Homo sapiens: one gene and its partner. The protein of the gene in region 1 purifies or fractionates together with the protein of each later gene. This does not show direct contact. Each region holds a gene or a part of one and is shown on either strand. Other genes may lie near its edges.

The links.
Region 2: the proteins of MUCL1 (region 1) and PDIA5 purify together in Homo sapiens (co-immunoprecipitation; 3 studies listed by BioGRID and IntAct, with this or other methods). This does not show direct contact.

Annotation. Positions count from the first base shown.
Region 1 is NC_000012.12:54,849,183-54,858,515, forward strand, and holds MUCL1 (mucin-like protein 1 precursor), read left to right. Parts: upstream 1-5,333; 5' UTR 5,334-5,400; coding exon 5,401-5,458; intron 5,459-5,933; coding exon 5,934-5,975; intron 5,976-7,587; coding exon 7,588-7,710; intron 7,711-9,010; coding exon 9,011-9,060; 3' UTR 9,061-9,205; downstream 9,206-9,333. UniProt on the Homo sapiens protein: May play a role as marker for the diagnosis of metastatic breast cancer.
Region 2 is NC_000003.12:123,138,808-123,148,335, forward strand, and holds part of PDIA5 (protein disulfide-isomerase A5 precursor), read left to right. Parts: intron 1-6,714; coding exon 6,715-6,785; intron 6,786-7,291; coding exon 7,292-7,452; intron 7,453-9,528.

The DNA of each region.
Region 1 (9,333 bases):
AACACAAATATATGGTCACTTGCATCTACATATATTTGCCTATTATAATAGGAATATGGGGAAATTTATTTAACATTTGCTTTTTGGTATTGATGATAGCAGTGTATGAAATATTAGCCATAAAGGAGTAGGAATAAATAACTACATATAAGTTCATATATGCATAAAATTTTCACAAATATATAATTACCAAGTAAAAATGGCAGTTATCTCATTGTTTTGGCCCATCTAGAGACTTTTACTTTCTTATGTATACTTCTATTTTAATTTTTATAAAAAATACAAAAATAATCTTGTAATGGGAAAGAGCAGTAGTAAAAAGTTTTGGAGCTATGTCATCCATTGAATTTCACTCTTAAAATTACATATCCACTAGTATATAGTGTATACATATATAGAGAGATAAAGTTTGGTTATACATACAATATATGATTTTATATAGAATATATTGCATAATATTTGACAGATGTTACAAAATGTAGATATTAGAAAGATCTCAGTTTAATTTTAATATAACATGCCCTATATATAATGCTGTTCATTTTAATGAACAAATTTGGTGTTAGATCTGAGTATATTTTATATACTCACATATGATACTTTATGCTTGAATTTTAGATCCCTCTTAAAGTGATAATATTAAAAACCTACAATTTGAAGCATTATAATATTATCAAAATCCAATAACTTCAGAAAAATAAAGCCTCAAAACTGTTGTAGGCCCCACGGGGCTCCCCTACACCCTGAGCCTTCATGTCCTCTGCACACTCAGGCCACTGGTTGCAGATTGTCTGCTTTCCCAGCAACTGCAGACCAGCTTCAGCTTGGGCAAACCAGCACTGTTCTCTGCCACCCAGAGGGCTGCTTCTCCAATGAGTTCTGAATATCAGCTTCAGGGAGGAGGGCTCTTTATTGTTGTCCTTCCTTGGATAGTCTCCCTCAACCCTAGGGTTTCATAGAACTTCCTTATAACTACTCATTTTTTTTTATTATTACACTTTAAGTTTTGGGTACATGTGCACAACGTGCAGGTTTGTTACATATGTATACATGTGCCATGTTGGGGTGCTGCACCCATTAACTCGTCATTTACATTAGGTATATCTCCTAATGCTATCCCTCCCCCCTCCCCCCACCCCACCACAGGCCCCGGTGTGTGATGTTCCCCTTCCTGTGTCCACGTGTTCTCATTGTTCAGTTGCCACCTATGAGTGAGAACACACGGTGTTTGGTTTTTTGTCCTTGCGATGGTTGGCTGAGAATGATGGTTTCCAGCTTCATCCATGTCCCTACAAAGGACATGAACTCATCATTTTTTATGGCTACATAGTATTCCATGGTGTATATGTGCCACATTTTCTTAATCCAGTCTATCATTGTTGTACATTTGGGTTGGTTCCAAGTCTTTGCTATTGTGAATAGTGCTGCAATAAACATACGTGTGCATGTGTCTTTTTAGCAGCATGATTTATAATCCTTTGGGTATATGCCCAGTAATGGGATGGCTGGGTCAAATGGTATTTCTAGTTCTAGATCCTTGAGGAATTGCCACACTGACTTCCACAAGGGTTGAACTAGTTTACAGTCCCAACAACAGTGTAAAAGTGTTCCTATTTCTCCACATCCTCTCCAGTACCTGTTGTTTCCTGACTTTTTAATGATTGCCATTCTAACTGGTGTGAGATGGTATCTCACTGTGGTTTTGATTTGCATTTCTCTGATGGCCAGTGATGGTGAGCATTTTTTCATGCGTTTTTTGGCTGCATAAATGTCTTCTTTTGAGAAGTGTCTGTTCATATCCTTTACCCACTTGTTGATGGGGTTGTTTGTTTTTTTCTTGTAAATTTGTTTGAATTCATTGTAGATTCTGGATATTAGCCCTTTGTCAGATGGAGAGATTGCAAAAATTTTCTCCTATTCTGTAGGTTGCCTGTTCACTCTGATGGTAGTTTCTTTTGCTGTGCAGAAGCTCTTTAGTTTAATTACAACCCATTTGTCAATTTTGGTTTTGTTGCCATTGCTTTTGGTGTTTTAGACATGAAGTCCTTGCCCATGCCTATGTCCTGAATGGTATTGCCTAGGTTTTCTTCTAGGATTTTTATGGTTTTAGGTCTAACATGTAAGTCTTTAAATCATCTTAAATTAATCTCTGGGATGCAAGGCTGGTTAACATATGCAAATCAATACACGTAATCCAGCATATAAACAGAACCAAAGACAAAAACCACATGATTATCTCAATAGATGCAGAAAAGGCCTTTGACAAAATTCAACAACCCTTCGTGCTAAAAACTCTCAATAAATTAGGTATTGATGGGACGTATCTCAAAATAATTAGAGCTATCTACGACAAACCCACAGCCAATATCATACTGAATGGGCAAAAACTGGAAGCATTCCCTTTGAAAACTGGCACAAGACAGGGATGCCCTCTCTCACCACTCCTATTCAACGTAGTGTTGGAAGTTCTGGCCAGGGCGATCAGGCAGGAGAAGGAAATAAAGGGTATTCAATTAGGAAAAGAGGAAGTCAAATTGTCCTTGTTTGCAGATGACATGATTGTATATCTAGAAAACCCCATCGTCTCAGCCCCAAATCTCCTTAAGCTGATAAGCAACTTCAGCAAAGTCTCAGGATACAAAAATCAATGTGCAAAAATCACAAGCATTCTTATACACCAATAACAGACAGAGAGCCAAATCATGACTGAACTCCCATTCCCAATTGCTTCAAAGAGAATAAAATACCTAGGAATCCAACTTACAAGGGATGTGAAGGACCTCTCCAAAGAGAACTACAAATCACTGCTCAATGAAATAAAAGAGGATACAAACAAATGGAAGAACATTCCATGCTCATGGGTTGGAAGAATCAATATTGTGAAAATGGCCATACTGCCCAAGGTAATTTATAGATTCAATGCCATCCCCATCAAGCTACCAATGACTTTCTTCACAGAATTGGAAAAAACTACTTTAAAGTTCATATGGAAGCAAAAAAGAGCCCACATTGCCAAGTCAATCCTAAGCCAAAAGAACAAAGCTGGAGGCATCACACTACCTGACTTCAAACTATACTACAAGGCTACAATAACCAAAACAGCATGGTACTGGTACCAAAACAGAGTTATAGACCAATGGAACAGAACAGAGCCCTCAGAAATAATGCCACACATCTACAACCATCTGATCTTTGAGAAACCTGACGAAAACAAGCAATGGGGAAAGGATTCCCTATTTAATAAATGGTGCTGGGAAATCTGGCTAGCCATATGTAGAAAGCTGAAACTGGATCCCTTCCTTACACCTTATACAAAAATTCATTCAAGATGAAAAACTACTCATATATCAAACTTTAGAAATTCTTTGTATCACACTTTTCCTGTTTAATCCACTGTGCAGTTTTGATCTCTTAAGGGGACCCTAACTGATACATATGTTTAATCTTTTTTTCTTAGCAAGCCAGTCATTGTCTTAAGTCTGTGTGGTGGGTCTCTGCCTCTGTGGAGGGACACAGTGGGCTCTCAATAAGTAACCGTCTCCTAGAAGACCCTTCAATTTGTGTCAGTGTTGTTGGGAGGCCTTACAAAGGTGACTGTAGGGCTTATTCCCTACGGGGTATAATCAGATAGTATCTGTCTTTTAAGTCTTCCTTCCTTCTTTATCTCTTTTAAATATTTCTCTTTCACTTTTCCTTCAGAATATGTGTTTTTTTCTTAGCGTTATTTATGCTAATCTCTCACCATATTATGACAACTCTGTGCCTCATGGAAGATATGAGTTTACCCAGGACAAGGACACTGACTTGTCTTTCCGAGGTTGAAGACCACTCCCTCAAGAATTTCCTCTGCCTTTCTTCATTCACCTGATGGGGACCTCTTAGCATGTTTTGGGGAGTAGACTGGTTGCTGTTATCAGACAGACTCTCCAATAAAAGGAGAAATAGATGTTCAGTGCTCTTCCAGATTACAGAGATCCTTCCAATGAGGGTATGACCCAAAAAGGCATACTTTGTATGAAGAAGAAGAACTTTAAAGCAAGGGAAATCTTTAAAATGTAGAGAATTCCCTATGATTCTGGGTATTCCAAATGTTCATCACCCCTCTTTGAGGCCTCAGTTGGGTCCAGCACTTGATTGTGCTGTAAATGTGGATTGTTTTCCTCCCTTGCTGTCTTTACTTAGCAGCTTGGCTCCATTATGACAAAGGGCAAGTAGATTGATGGAACTTGGGGCAGTGCTGGGCCCTACTCAACAACTGCAGAGAAGTCTGGATGACCATATTCTACATGCACTCACCATTGCTTTCCTTCAGACTGACCATTTCCTTTCCGTTGCATTATCCAAATATACCACGTTGTTGATTCCTCAGCTCCTTAAGAGTCTGTTCAAATATCACCTATTCAGTAATGCCTTTTTTGGTCACCTTATATAAAATTGCTCCCCATTTTCCATCTCTAAACTCTCCTTTCTTCTTTCCTGCCTTCTTTTTTTATTAGGCCTTATCACCTCACACATAATACATTGTGTTTTCTCTTTCTTTACTTTTTTAGTGTATGAATTCCTGCAAAACCATGTATTAAATAAAATTTTTGTGTGCTTTGTTCGCTGTTATTTTTCTAACATCTAGCATTGTGTCTGGCATACAATAATGCTCAATGAATGTTTTTTGAATGAAAAAATTGATTAAATGGATGCATGAATTAACAAATGTTAGTTTATTCTGTATACTTACTCCTTGATTTTGAATTTTTATACAATGGTTGCTAAATCCAGTAAGGTCATAGTTCGTTCTTTAGATCATTCAGTGTTGGACTCACTCTGCACCAGTGTCAGATGACCTAATTACATGTTCAGGAGGGAGGCCATGACTCGAAGAATGCACAGCCTGAGTTACACCGGATGGTCTTTGGATCAGGCTGCTCTACCCTGATTATTCCCCTAGGGGGAGACAGAGGTCTAAGCACTCTGTAAGTGTATGACTCCTAGAATCTATGAAAAGAGCACTGCAGATTTCAGGAAGGCTGGTTATGGGGCATCTCCAACCTGTCATAGGAGCTGGTAATTATGGAGACACTATACCCTACATGTAAGAGGATGCCTGGAAGAGAAGTTGCCTGGAGCATATTTAACATGAGAGACTCGAATTGAAACCTGTTTAGCCAGAACCAATGATTTGAATTCACAACCTTTCCAAAGGGCCCCTGGCTGTGTTGTTGATTCTCCAGTGGTTTGTGTCCCAACGTTTCCTGGCATTACCTAACCTGGATTCTGGTTGACAGCTCCTGATTGGTGCCCTCTGCATATATATTGTCAGGATGTGGAATCCTGAAGTCAGCGCCTTGCCTTCTCTTAGGCTTTGAAGCATTTTTGTCTGTGCTCCCTGATCTTCAGGTCACCACCATGAAGTTCTTAGCAGTCCTGGTACTCTTGGGAGTTTCCATCTTTCTGGTCTCTGCCCGTAAGTAAAGATTCTTACCTGAACATAAGTTTTGTGGGAATATACATAAAATATCTCCTCTAAAGATGTGGGCTTATGGTTGCTTAGAATGTGCTTTTTTACCTCTCCTAACTTGTTCTATCACCATTTTGACTGACCGTTCAAGATGGAGATGGTTATCCTTAGGCTCTTCTTAATTCAGTCAGATCTTACTTCAATAATACCTTGGAACCCAAGTTTATTGTTACTGTTAGTAAAATATGTTCAAGAAGGTAATCAGAGGTTTATTTCGGGAAAGGAAAAATGACCACATATTAGGTTTTTATTGGTTTTCATGGGTTTTATCTTATCTGTGCACTTGTTCTTCCTCAACTGGTACACCAAGGACTGAGGGTCTTCCATTGTAAAGTCTGGAATATTGTCCATATTCTCTCTTACCTCCATCCTCCAAACTGGTATTCAGCTAACATCTTAATTTTTCCTTCTTCTCTTTCAGAGAATCCGACAACAGCTGCTCCAGCTGACACGTATCCAGCTAGTGAGTCTGCACTTGAATGTCATCTCTTTCCAGCAATAACCATTTTTCACTTCCAGCCTCATGTCAAACAGCCAGTTTCCATGTGGATAGTCTTTGTTATAAGGAATCCTAAGCAAAAGTCTGTGAAAGCTATATTCCTGATTTTAAAATTCACCACAAACATAGTGAATCTGCTTATTTCTTATACATTCTTAGAATATATGAAATCTAGGCCATAGACTTATACAAATGTGGACTTATTATTCATTGTTTTCCAGCATAAGGCACAAGAGCATGAGGTCTGATGTTGTAGCCTGAGAATTTTTGAGAGATGCCTCTAATAAATGGAAGGACTGAATATATAGCCAGTGTCAAAAAGAGACCAGTGGGTCTCAGAATTTGAAGTGATATGAAAATAAGTCCATTTGGATCACAAGTGAGGGTGGTGTGTGGGATGTGGAGTGCAGGGGTCAGTTCTAAGCTTTACTCTTTGTAATGGTCTATATTCCTTATTCCCAGGCTGATGTTTGTTTCCCTTCTCTAACCTGAAAACGAAGGTGGTAGACCAAAGCCTTTAGTCATTCTTGGGCTTCTCCCAAAGTGTTCTTCACATTCTGTACTGTGTGTGTGTTGTGCCCATGCACAAGTTAAGGGGGTCTGTCTTTATCCTTCGCATCTTGGGAATTTGCATCCTTTGGTCACAAGGGCATTAGCTTTAGTCAGACCTCACATATATTTTTCCTGCCATGTGAGGCCCCATTTAAAAAATATTTTCTCTCTTAAATAAAGCCTGAGACAGCATGGATAGAGTGTGGGTTTGGAGGTGGAGCTACTTATTTGCTGAGGTGAGTCTAACTCACAAATGTGGGGCCTGACTCTTGATCCTTATCAATAGCTCTTGTGTAAGGTCTAGAGAGAGAGAGATAATTTTCAAAACTCTTACCCAGTCCCCTTTGTACATATAGTAATTAATGGGGAATTTTTTTACTATCAGAAGTGTATTAATTTCTCCTGTTATATCTAATGTGGCTCTCACAATTACCTCTCTAATAAACAGAGTCCAAGCTGCCACAGAGGGTGAGACAAATATGGCTCTTTTCATTCTAGAACCTGATAGAAGATATCTTACTGCACTCTAAGACAGGAGATATGACTCTAAGATGAGATACGTCTTCTTAGTCTGCCTCCTCCTTCCCTCTAGAGTTCATCCCTTTACTCATCCTCATTCATGCTACATTGGAATGTATGCTGTCTTAGGTTATTCTGTGGGACGGCTTCAGAATGTCAGGCTACTAGAGATTTCCTTATTGCTTCTGAGCAGTAGTCCCTGTGAATAGGAACACTCGTGGCCTTGGTCTTTTGTGCTCATACCTGGGACAAAGTACTTGCTTGTCTCTTTAATCAGTGTCATTGCCCTTGGAGGGAAACCCCAAATTCTTTCTGTCCCAGCAAAGACAAGACAGGGAAGGATGAAGCACAAGGAAAGTAGGCAGGTAGGCTAAAGGTAAGACAGAACTGATGACAGATTTGCAGAGATGAATTCAGGATGAGGAATGTATGTCTACCCCTGGGTGGGATAAATTTTGTTCCAGAAGGAGTCAGTCTCACCTAGAGCTTTTCCTTCTAATTTCAGCTGGTCCTGCTGATGATGAAGCCCCTGATGCTGAAACCACTGCTGCTGCAACCACTGCAACCACTGCTGCTCCTACCACTGCAACCACCGCTGCTTCTACCACTGCTCGTAAAGACATTCCAGGTAGCAAGACTCCTCCATCTGTGTGCTTCCTTTATGTGGCTCCTTGATTCCTTGGGTTCTCTATTCTCACAGAGACTCTATTTTTGAGGTCAGGGAGACCTCTTCTTTACATTGTTCTCTAAATCCTTGTAGTTTCTAAGTCAAGTCAACAGATAAATATCAGAGGAGTCAGGAGGTTACCTGACTCCTAGGTTACCAATATTACCTGAATGGATCTTGAAATATTGACATTTATTAAGGAAAACTCTTCCTTAGTAGAAACATCATTGGAAAGACCAAAATAAGTGTCTCCATGAAGCTAGGTAACTGCTTATTATTATTATTTTTTTAAATCAGGTAGTGTGTGTGTGTGTGTGTGTGTGTGTGTGTGTGTGTGTTTAAATCAGGCAATTTAAAAATCAGGTAATCAAGTAAAATCTTTGTTTCCTTTAGAGAATTTTCCCAAAATAGAAAATAGCTTAACAATGAATGATTTTACAATCTTTCTTGAGGCAGATTATTTTGAGTGCCATTCAGGGTATTTCTGGGGTTTTGGACATTCACTGAGGATCAATGTACATTCCTCCTATTCTGGGTTCACTTTTTCTTGACCTTTAACTTTCACATAGTATTGATTACAACATTTATTCAATCGGAACATATGCCAGGAACTGTGTCATAAAATTTACATATGTATTATAATTTAAATATCACAGTCATTCTATGAAGTAAACATTTTAAAGATGAGGAAATGGAAGAGTTGCAATGAGAAACTTTCCTTTGAGCACACAGGCAGAAAGAAAAAGGAAATTGCACTCAAACAAATGGAGAGTTACAATGAGAAACTTTCCTTTGAGCACACGGGCAGAAAGAAAAAGGATTCAAATTACACCCATACAATCAAAGTCCCTAAGAAATTTTCTTCAGATATTGCTTTATACTTTTTCATGTCTGAATCAGTGCTTGGAACTCTGTCAATAATCTGTAAAGTAGACTGTGAGTGAGAAAATGGCTTTTCTCTCTTACCAGAAGAAGGCTGGATCTCTGTGCCATATTATAGGAAAACTCATACGTATTGACTTTCTTCTAGTTCTCTCTAAAGTTCCAACCTACCTGGGCTTCCGTCTAAGGCTATATTTCCAAAATCTTTAAGGACAGAAATTGGTTGTTTATCTTCCCGTAATAACAATCCCATGTTCCTTTCGAATCCCCTGAGTTTAGTTGACATTTGACACTTGTTAGTTCCTTCAGATTCTGAAGAATAAATCCACATTCTTCATCCTTTGTCGAAGCCCCTTGACAATATTTTTTTCTCTTGCAGTTTTACCCAAATGGGTTGGGGATCTCCCGAATGGTAGAGTGTGTCCCTGAGATGGAATCAGCTTGAGTCTTCTGCAATTGGTCACAACTATTCATGCTTCCTGTGATTTCATCCAACTACTTACCTTGCCTACGATATCCCCTTTATCTCTAATCAGTTTATTTTCTTTCAAATAAAAAATAACTATGAGCAACATAAAAATGGTATTTCTTATGGGCTATGGGGCGGTTGTCCATTGTTTAGACAATCCAAGTGACAGACACTTCAGATTTTACCTAATACTTCCTTGTGCTCCTACTAATAACTAGACTTCCTATTTATTT
Region 2 (9,528 bases), on another chromosome or scaffold:
CCCCAAGCCAAATTCCAAGCAAGGCAGGAACCAGGCTCTTCTAGAGGCCCAAGTACTACCCCAGTACCCTGGCTACCAGGGAGCTTTACAGATTAATCTGGTCCTCTGGGAAATTCTGGTTCCAGCATCCAGGAAAGCCCTATAGCTGGCCTGTAGTAAAATCATAAGTATAATTGAATTTAATGAAATCCAGACGAATCCGAGGGCTTTGGGTTGACAGGAAGCCAACATTCCCACAGCCAGAAAAGAGCATGATCAAGGAGTTGATGTGCAGACCTCTATGCCAGATCACGGAAATCGGAGTAAGTGCACTTACACAGATGATAAAAGCCCAACAAGGAAGTTTAGCAATAAAACTTAATGGCCTCTCAAATCACAATCAGGACACAAAATGCAGTGGGCCGGAGTCCCGCTCCCTGCATGTAACCCTCCTCCTCCAACTGTCCCACAGCCAGGGACATCATGAAGGCCAGGCCCAGGAGGCTGGTCCTCAGGTCACCGCCAGCTCTATCCATCACCCACGGCTCCCCAAGACAGGAGGGTGTCTGGAAGGGAGGTGTTTTCTCAGCCAGACCTTTCTCCTCCTCTGGGCCTGGCCAGGCTCCTCATCTTAAACTCTGTTTGCAGAAGTTTATTGCTTAGCCTTAGTGTCTTATTCAGGGTCAGAGGGAATTGATGCTAGAATTGAAAACCTTAACAATATCAAGAGAATTCTAGGGTATGTATGGGAAACTTTAGAACAGCATCCTTAGATGTTAGAGATTTTGGGAGACACTTTTCTCCTAGTGAGGTGCAGAGGAGGCGCAAAGATGGTAGTGGGGAGGAGAGGAGAGGGGATGTGCATAGTAACTGGCTTGGTTGCCAGTTCTACTAATTAGAGGTGTTTAGTCAAATTAACGACTATTTGAGTGCAAGCCATGACCCTTGCCCATAAAGAATTTAGTCCTGCCAAACCTTGTGTGTACAGGTGTAAACCTAACAACCTAACAAGTCATGAGGCTAATTCATTCAGAAAGCGTGTGGAGCAGCGTGGTCAGTATCAGGAATATGGTGGCCAATTAGACAAGACAGCCGAGCCCCTGCCTGCACATACAGAGCCTCCATTCCAGTTGAGGGGATGGGCAGGGAACAAGTGAGCAGATTACTCCAGCTGCTTTGAGTACAATTGAGAAAATAAAACAGGATATTGGGAGAGGGCATGATAGCATGAGGCGCCTTTGGGATAGGTGGTCAGGGAGGGTCTCCTAGAAGGTGAAATTTGAGTGGAAGCCTGAGTGGCTGATGTAAAGAGGGGTAAGCCGCATACAGACCTGGGGGAAGATGTTGGTATGTATGCTCCAGGTGGGTAGGAAAGAACATGTTCCAGGGCCCTGGGGTAGAAATGAACTTGGTGTGTTGGGAGAAGAGGAGAGCCAGAGGCTGCAGTAGAAGTGACCTGAGTTGAGGTTGAAGGTAGGCAGGACTCAGCTTGTGTGGGGTCTGTAGCCATAATAAGTTTGGATTTGAATCTACCTGTGATAGGAAGCCACTGTAAAGTTTTAAGCAAAGGGATCTGATCTGATTGATGTTTTGAAAATATACCCCGGCTGCCCTTAAATATCAGAAGACAGCAATATCACAGTCACAAAGCAACACAAAATTAAATGCCATAGAAATATCTGAATAAGAAGTATTTTGTAATTAGAAGAGAGACAGATCATTCGATGGGGCTACAGTGAACTGGGAAGACTCAAAGCAGGGGCCAGAACAAAGGTAGGATTGCGAGGGGTTGTCCAGGGTGGATGTTGCCTATCCATCAGAGCAGGGGCTGGGAGGAAGAGGTGGCAGGTGGTGATGGCCCTGGGGGATTTGTCACTTCGTCTTCCAGAGCTACAATTTCTGGCACTGTAAAACGGACCTACTGAGCTGTGTCATGTGTCTGGTGGGGCTGCTGCGATAGAGTGTGGAAGCCCAGCACAGACAGCGAGTGCTTTCCTTATAGAGGTGGGGAATTCTGGGAGCTGAGGCCAAAGCCCAGGAGACAGCCATGTGTGCGAGCTGCGGAAACTGGAGGTCTCCTGGTATTGACCCCAGCTGGCTTCCCATGCCTGTGGCAGACGTTGCAAGTTGGTCACAGCTCCTCTTCCCAGTGAGCGAGTTCTCAGACTCAGCCTCTGTCTCAGGCCCACCGCTGATGGAAGCTGGCAGGTGGAATGAAACCCACTTGCCACCCTGGCAGGGCAGTGGCATCAAAGGCCTGGAGCCTGATAAAGGGATGAAGTAAACCTCCCTACCAGCACACAGTGAATTCTCATCTTCAGGAGTCCTGCCACATCAACAGGGTCACTTTAGAAAGCAACAGTGATTCTCAGTGAATGGCAATGGCTGGCTTTTCTTTGTCTTCCCTCCCCTGATTCCTACTCCAGTCCCACTGTCCATCTTGACCATGGGCCCTGCCAGCAGCTGGCCTAACAGCACCATCCATATCATGGAGGGTATGGGGAGAGTGGTCAAGGGAGCCTCTCTTTCCTGCCTCTCCCACCTCCCTGGAGGCCACCCAGGGCCTCATGCCTGCATTTCCCGAGGCCTCCCAGTGTGTCCTCCACTATGTGCTGCTGGGCTGAGTCAGTCTGTCTCAGGGCAGTGGACCTTTGGGGACTTTGCATGGACCACTCACATCTCTCCAGAGCAGGTTGAACTCTCGGGCGATAGACTCACCGCCACAGGAGAGTCTCTGAGCTTCCTTCTCCTGCAGTTTGTTCATGCAGGGTGAGCCCCCTCACTCTGCCCCAGTCAGGGGAGGTCAGCCTGAAAGCAGGAGAGTGGGGGGCTCACCTTGGACAGGTGCAGGGAGCAGCAGCTTGGGGTTGCCCCCGGGGCAGGGAGATCCCTTTAAGAGCTGTAGAACTTTTTCATCCTGACCGTGGCCCCAAAGGATGGTTTACTCCACTCTATTTTAGTGAGAAGCAAAAAAATAATTTTTTAATCTTAATATACCTCATATTAAGTCAGTAGAACCTTCTGCAGATTATTCCATTTACTCCTGACATGTGGGCCAGTGTGGAAAGACATCTAAGCCTGGGCCCCTGTGCATCAGCTCTCCGTGTTCTTCCGCTTTGCCTCCCATTGGACAGTGATTGGCTTGGAGTCCGGTGGTCTCCTTTGTCCTGGGCTCCTAACCCCAGTTCTGTGAGCAAGTTCAGGTAGTCCAGGATCCCTCTGGAATTGTACATACATGTGGAGTATATGCATCAGTGTGGGGAAGGGGAGGAGAGGCTTTTGTGACAATCTCAAGAATGTCAGTGCCTGGGAGGCACAGACTCCTGCCCCAGCTCTCCCTGGTCCCTCTTGGAGTTCTTCCTCTCACTGCTGAGGTGGGGGTCGCTGCCTAGAGGGAGCGGCCTGCCTGCTGTCCCCACTGGATCGCGGGCTGCACTTGTCCCATTGGGAGCAGGCTCAGGGAAATACAAATAGCACTGCGTGCTTTTATGTTTCAGGTGCATCCTATTAAATGGGCTTTTGCGGTTGCCCCTGGGAATCTGCATGTAATCGGTGTGTAAAATTGTTTCTGAGGGGAAAACAAACAGCCAACTTACCAAAACAACCCTTTTGTGACTGGATTATTTAGGTAACACATGGCTCATGATGATGCTAAATGTTCATTTCTGGAAAGTGATATTCTTGTCATTCAAAATAATGATGACCTTGATACCTCTACAGCTTATGATGGGGGGATCCCAAGTGGGGTCTAGTCAGACCGTGAACTCCCAAAGTCATCTAACCCTATGTGCATTTTTCTGGAAGAAGGGTTTACCACTTTGATCATGATCTCCACAATGTCTGACTGCAGGGGACATTAAGAATATCTGCTGTGGAGAACAAGGCCAGGAACAGCCAGGCTGTCTTGCCCAGCCCAGGGGCAGCCTCTGGGGGGGCCGAGCTCAGCAGTCCCAGAGGAGCCCTTAGGAGCACTTTTGGGGCTATGTGCCTTGCTCAGCCCTGGCAGCGGAATTCTGCACTGCTGAATTGAGCATGGGGACGTCCTCATTTCTCTGAGGCTGCCCCTGCCCTCCTGACTGGGTCCTCTGTCCTCTGTCTCTAACTTGCCCACATGTGTCCTTTCATCTGCCACCTCCAGGAGGTCTTCTCAAGCCCCTGGTCAACCCAGGAGTTGTCTACTAATTATTTAATTAGGTCTCTTCATTGCTGACCAGTAAATATTTATCATGTATCTATTAAATGGTGATCCTTTTGCTTCATGGGGAGGTACAAGGTAAAAAAAAACCTCAGGTCCCACCTTTAGAGAGTCACCATCTGGGGCTGGGCATGGTGGCTCACACCTGTAATCTCAGCACTTTGGGAGGCCAAGGTGGGTGGATCACAGGTCAGGAGATCGAGACCATCCTGGCTAACACAGTGAAACCCCATCTCTACTAAAAATACAAAAAATTAGCTGGGCGTGGTGGCACATGCCTGTAGTCCCAGCTACTCGGGAGGCTGAGGCAGGGGAATCACTTGAACCCAGGAGGCGGAGGTTGCAGTGAGCTGACATCGTGTGCCACTGTACTCCAGCCTGGGTGACAGAGCGAGACTCCATCTCAAAAAAAAAAAAAAAAAAGAGAGGCACTGTCTGGTACCTAGAGCCCAGCATGATGAGTGTGTAGTGTGGGTACAATATGTAATAGGGCTACAAGCAGCTGCCGGCTCCCCTGGGGCTGCCAGGGCAGGTGGAGTGCTCTTCCTCTGGTTCATCCCTTGAAGGCATCATGTGTGCCACTCTATTCCCCTCTGGACCAAAGACCATGGTCCTCTCTGTCATTATGCTGGAAGATTCTAAGGGCTGATGCCTTTTCTACCCTTTCTTCTGCATCATAGCCCAACAGGAGTAGGCAGCTCCCTAGATAATGGCAGCAGAGGTGCCTGTATACCCAGCAGTTCCTCCTCTTCTTGTTGTGGAGCCTCCCACTTGAGGGTTAGCAGTGTCTCTCTTCCTTGGATCCACCTGGGAAGAGCTGACATGTTGATGTGGCTAAGCACTGTAGCCACTCCCTGGGCTGCATTCCATGAGGGTCAGTGCCCTTGACCGAGTCATGTCTCCAGTGCTCTGTCCAGAGGAGGAGCTTCACAACACTGCCTGGGAGCTCAAGGATCAGTTTGGTTTTCTGTTATCAGTTAAGTGGGGAGTAGCCACTCCGGGGTCCCTTGTCCCTGGGAGGGACAGGGTGAGGATGAGCTGAGGAAGCCAGGTACAGGCAGGAGTGAAATGGAGAGATTAAGAACGAGACAGGTTCATGTCTCACCTGGAGCTGAGTTCTGCAGAAATGGCCTTGGAGGAGGAGACAGGAGCTTTCACCCCTGCCGGGTGCTCAGCTGGAGGCAGGAAAGCCGATTCCGTAGCTCAGTGGGAGGTCTCCTCTGATTACACTGTTTGACTTTCTGTCTTGCTTTCTTCTTGTCTTTCTTTTTCCTAACAATCAGTAGTAGAATTATAGCGTTCTCAGCTCCCACACAGTGGCACACCCCTGAGAAGGTTGAGTCACGACCTGTCATCCGCTGATCCTAGTTAATGCATGGTCCCCGCACAGCCAGGCTTACCTTCTGAGCAGCCTCCATCCTGAGCCAGTCTGCAGACCCCTCACCTCCCAGTCCCTCCAGCATCAGAGGCCAGAAAGTACTCTTTCTATTAAAATGAAAACAATGTACAAATGTCAAGGTCTGTCATTTACACAAAGTGCTTAATTTCTTTTTAATGCATCAAATTTTATTATTTCTGACATCTTACTGTGTTCATGCAGCTGTAAGAAAAGCACAGAGCAGGCTGGGCGCGGTGGCTCACGCCTGTAATCCCAGCACTTTGGGAGGCCGAGGTGGGTGGATCACGAGGTCAGGAGATCGAGACCATCCTGGCTAACACAGTGAAACCCCATCTCTATTGAAAAAGTACAAAAAAAATTAGCCGGGCGTGGTGGCGGGTGCCTGTAGTCCCAGCTACGTGGGAGGCTGAAGCAGGAGAATGGCATGAACCCAGGAGGCGGAGCTTGCGGTAAGCAGAGATGGCGCCACTGCACTCCAGCCTGGGAGACAGAGCAAGACTCTATCTCAAAACAAAAAAAAAAGAAAGAAAAGGACAGAGCAGTTTCTATCCCAAAAAATTCCCATCATGTCATATGGGGACAATTAGAATGTAATTATGTCCCATACTTATGCTTCTGTGAATTTTTGTGCCCAGCTCAAGGCCTCAGACTGCCTTCTGTCCAGAGAAGATGATGATGGTGATCACAGCATGGTGCCACAACCTACACGCTGCCTGCAGCTAGGGCCTCTCACCAGATGGTTGGGTTTTCAACCCAGCTCTGTGACCATGGCTGTGTATATGGCCTTGGGCAGTCACCTGCCCTCTTGGTGCCTCAATTGTCTAATCCATAGAATGGAGATAATGTCAGTTCCTACTTTGTGGGGTAGTTATGAGGCTGTAAGGCACTGGTCAGTACCTGGCACACCAGTTGCCCGTATTATTTATGCAGTTGTTTTATTTTTGTGTCTGGGGTACCTTCCCACTACCCCAACCCACTTCTGGTGGATTATGCAAAATATTTCTTTTCTTTGAGCTGGTGCTGCTGCTGCTTTTCTCAGGTGTCTGGGAATGGGACTGAGCTGCCTTACAGAGGCGGCGCAGGGGAGCATCCCGAGGGCCTCTGTGCCATAAGAATGGTTTCTCTTGATCTCTCCCCACAGGGTGTGGCCACTGTAAGAAAATGAAGCCGGAGTTTGAGAAGGCAGCAGAAGCCCTCCATGGAGAAGCGGATGTAAGCTTCCTTTCCTTCCCCCTCACCGTTCTCTTTGAAAGAATCACTGACAGGTGGAATCATTATGACTTTCCCCTGCAAGCCCTGCTGCAGCTCCCGTGGTCCGTGGAGGCCAGCAGTACCTCTGTGTGCCCAAGTAGAACATCTTAGACAGATGGGATCCTAGAGGGGGCAGAAAGACTACTGGCCCATGTTCCCGTGCCCATCCAGGTGACCTCTGCCTGCTCCCTCTTTTCTCTGGGACCCTGGCTAACAGGAACAGGTGCCAATCTACTCAACGTGGCTGGTGGGGCAGATTCAAAAGCCTCATCTCAGCTCATAAATGAGAAATGATGGCCGTGCCAATGTTCAGTTGTTCCCTGGGATATGGGAGCCCACTGGGCTAGCCACCCCAGTTAAATTCCAGCAGGTCCAGGATGGGTTGTGGGGGCAGCGTCTGGGCTCCTGTGTTCCACCAGCACCGCATCTGAGGCTGTAATGCATGGTTGGCCTTTCCCCCATCCCAGAGCTCTGGTGTCCTTGCAGCTGTCGATGCCACTGTCAACAAGGCCCTGGCAGAAAGATTCCACATCTCAGAGTTTCCTACGTTGAAGTATTTTAAGAATGGAGAGAAATACGCAGTGCCTGTGCTCAGGACAAAGAAGAAGTTTCTCGAGTGGATGCAAAAGTAAGTGTTACGATCTCAGTAGCACATCCTAACTGCCAGCTGGCGGCCCCTGGAGACCACCTTGAGGAGGTGAAGTAAACTTTATGGTCAATGTCCTGGGCTCATGCCCGTAGGAGTCAAGACGGATCTGACTTCCTCAACCCTAAAACCACCGTTCATATGCTGATCACGTGTCTTGATCAGGTCACTGCTGGCAGTCCTTCTGGACGCAGCTTCATCGACGCACTAAACCGTGTGTTGCTTTTTCTCTGTCTCAGCCTCCTTAGGCCCAGATCTTATTGTCTGCATTTTATTCCACTCCCTTTGAATAAATGAAGGAGACACAGCTCTTCATAGCCAGAGCTAGACTCATTTCGTCCAGGTTTGCTAGTGGTTGGCTGGGCCTCCAGTAATGTCCACAGGGCAGGCTATGGTGGTTTGCAACTGAGGATAAAGATTTTGAAGAGCCCCCTCAGCCTATGTATTAGTTTGCTAGTGTTGCCATAACCAAGTAACAGACCAGGTGGCTCAACAATATAATATAACAATATAACAGAAGTTTATTTTCTTACAATTTTGTTTTGTTTTGTTTTGTTTTGAGACAGTCTCACTTAGTCACCCAGGCTGGAGGCATGATCTCGGCTCACTGCAACCTCCACCTCCCAGGTTCAAGCGATTCTCCTGCCTCAGCCTCCCAGGTAGCTGGGATTACAGGCACATGCCACCATGCCTGGCTAATTTTTTGTATTTTTAGTAGAGACGGGGTTTCACCATGTTGCCCAGGCTGGTCTCGAACTCCTGAGCTCAAGTGATCCACCCGCCTCAGCCTCCCAAAGTGCTAGGATTACAGGCGTGAACCACCATGTGCAGCCTATTTTCTTACAATTTTGGAGGCTAGAAGTCAGAGATCAAGATGTTGGCAGGGTTGGTTTCTTCTGAGGCCCCTCCCCTTGGCCATCTTCTGCCTGTGACTTCCCATGGCCACCCCTCTATATGTATCTGTGACCTAATCTGCTCTTCTTATAAGGACACCAGTCATGTTGGATGAGAGCCCACCCTAATGACCTCATCTTAACTGAATTATCCCTTTAAAGGGATAATTTATCTCTAGATATAGTCACATTCTGAGATAATGGGGGTTAGGACATCAACATATGAATTAGAGGGGGACACAGTTGAACCTATACGGTCTGAGCTACTTTGTTAGGACATCAGTCAGATATGAGGTGTTTATTTAAAGCATAGACTCTGAGACTCTTTTATTCAGGAAGTGTGAATGGGACCCTCAGCCATGGTGTTCTAAGCAACACCAGCTTGTGGAATGGCAGCAAAGTTGCCACTAGATTCAGGGGAGGCCTCTGGCAAGAGATGAATGGACTGATGAGATCCTGGCCTCAGCTTCTCCCACTTTGTCCTGCTCATCCACTGGGAGGATTTGGAAAGTAGCTAGGCCTTTGTCTTAGGGACCAGAGGAAAATGATGGTTTGCCTCTGAAAGGCACAAGGTGCTTGCTTACCCCTCAAGGCCTTCTGGTGTCTGAAGTAAGTGGCTTGTTCACACCCACTTTTCCAGCCTTGCTCTGGTGCCAGGGCTGGTTCACTGGAAAGGACTGGGTGGGGCGGGGGATCTGGCCAGGTCCCTGTGATGCTTGGACTTCTGGTTAGAGAGCCGAGGGAATCCAGAGTGTCGATCATCACTAATCAGTGCTCCAGAGTCTTGGCCACAAACAGCGAGCATGAGGGGCCTCTGTCCTTTCTGTGTGCCACTGCTGCTACTGAGAGCCTGAAAAGCACTCAGGCTAAGTGCTTTCAGGTTTAAATACTTTCTTAAGTGCTTTTAGGTCAAGAGCATGGGCTTTGGAGTCTGAGAGACCTGGGCTGAGATCGTGACCCTGAGCCATTTCTTTGATGCCTCTAAGCCCCAGTTTCCTATCTGTAAGATGGAGACAGTAATTTCCCCATAGACTTGTCTAGGGAATTAAATGAGACTCCTGTGAAAAGTGCTCAGCACAGGACATGATGTGGAAGTACTCAAAAAAGTTGAAACTGGCCGGGCACGGTGGCTCATGGCTGTAATCCTAGCACTTTGGGAAGTAGA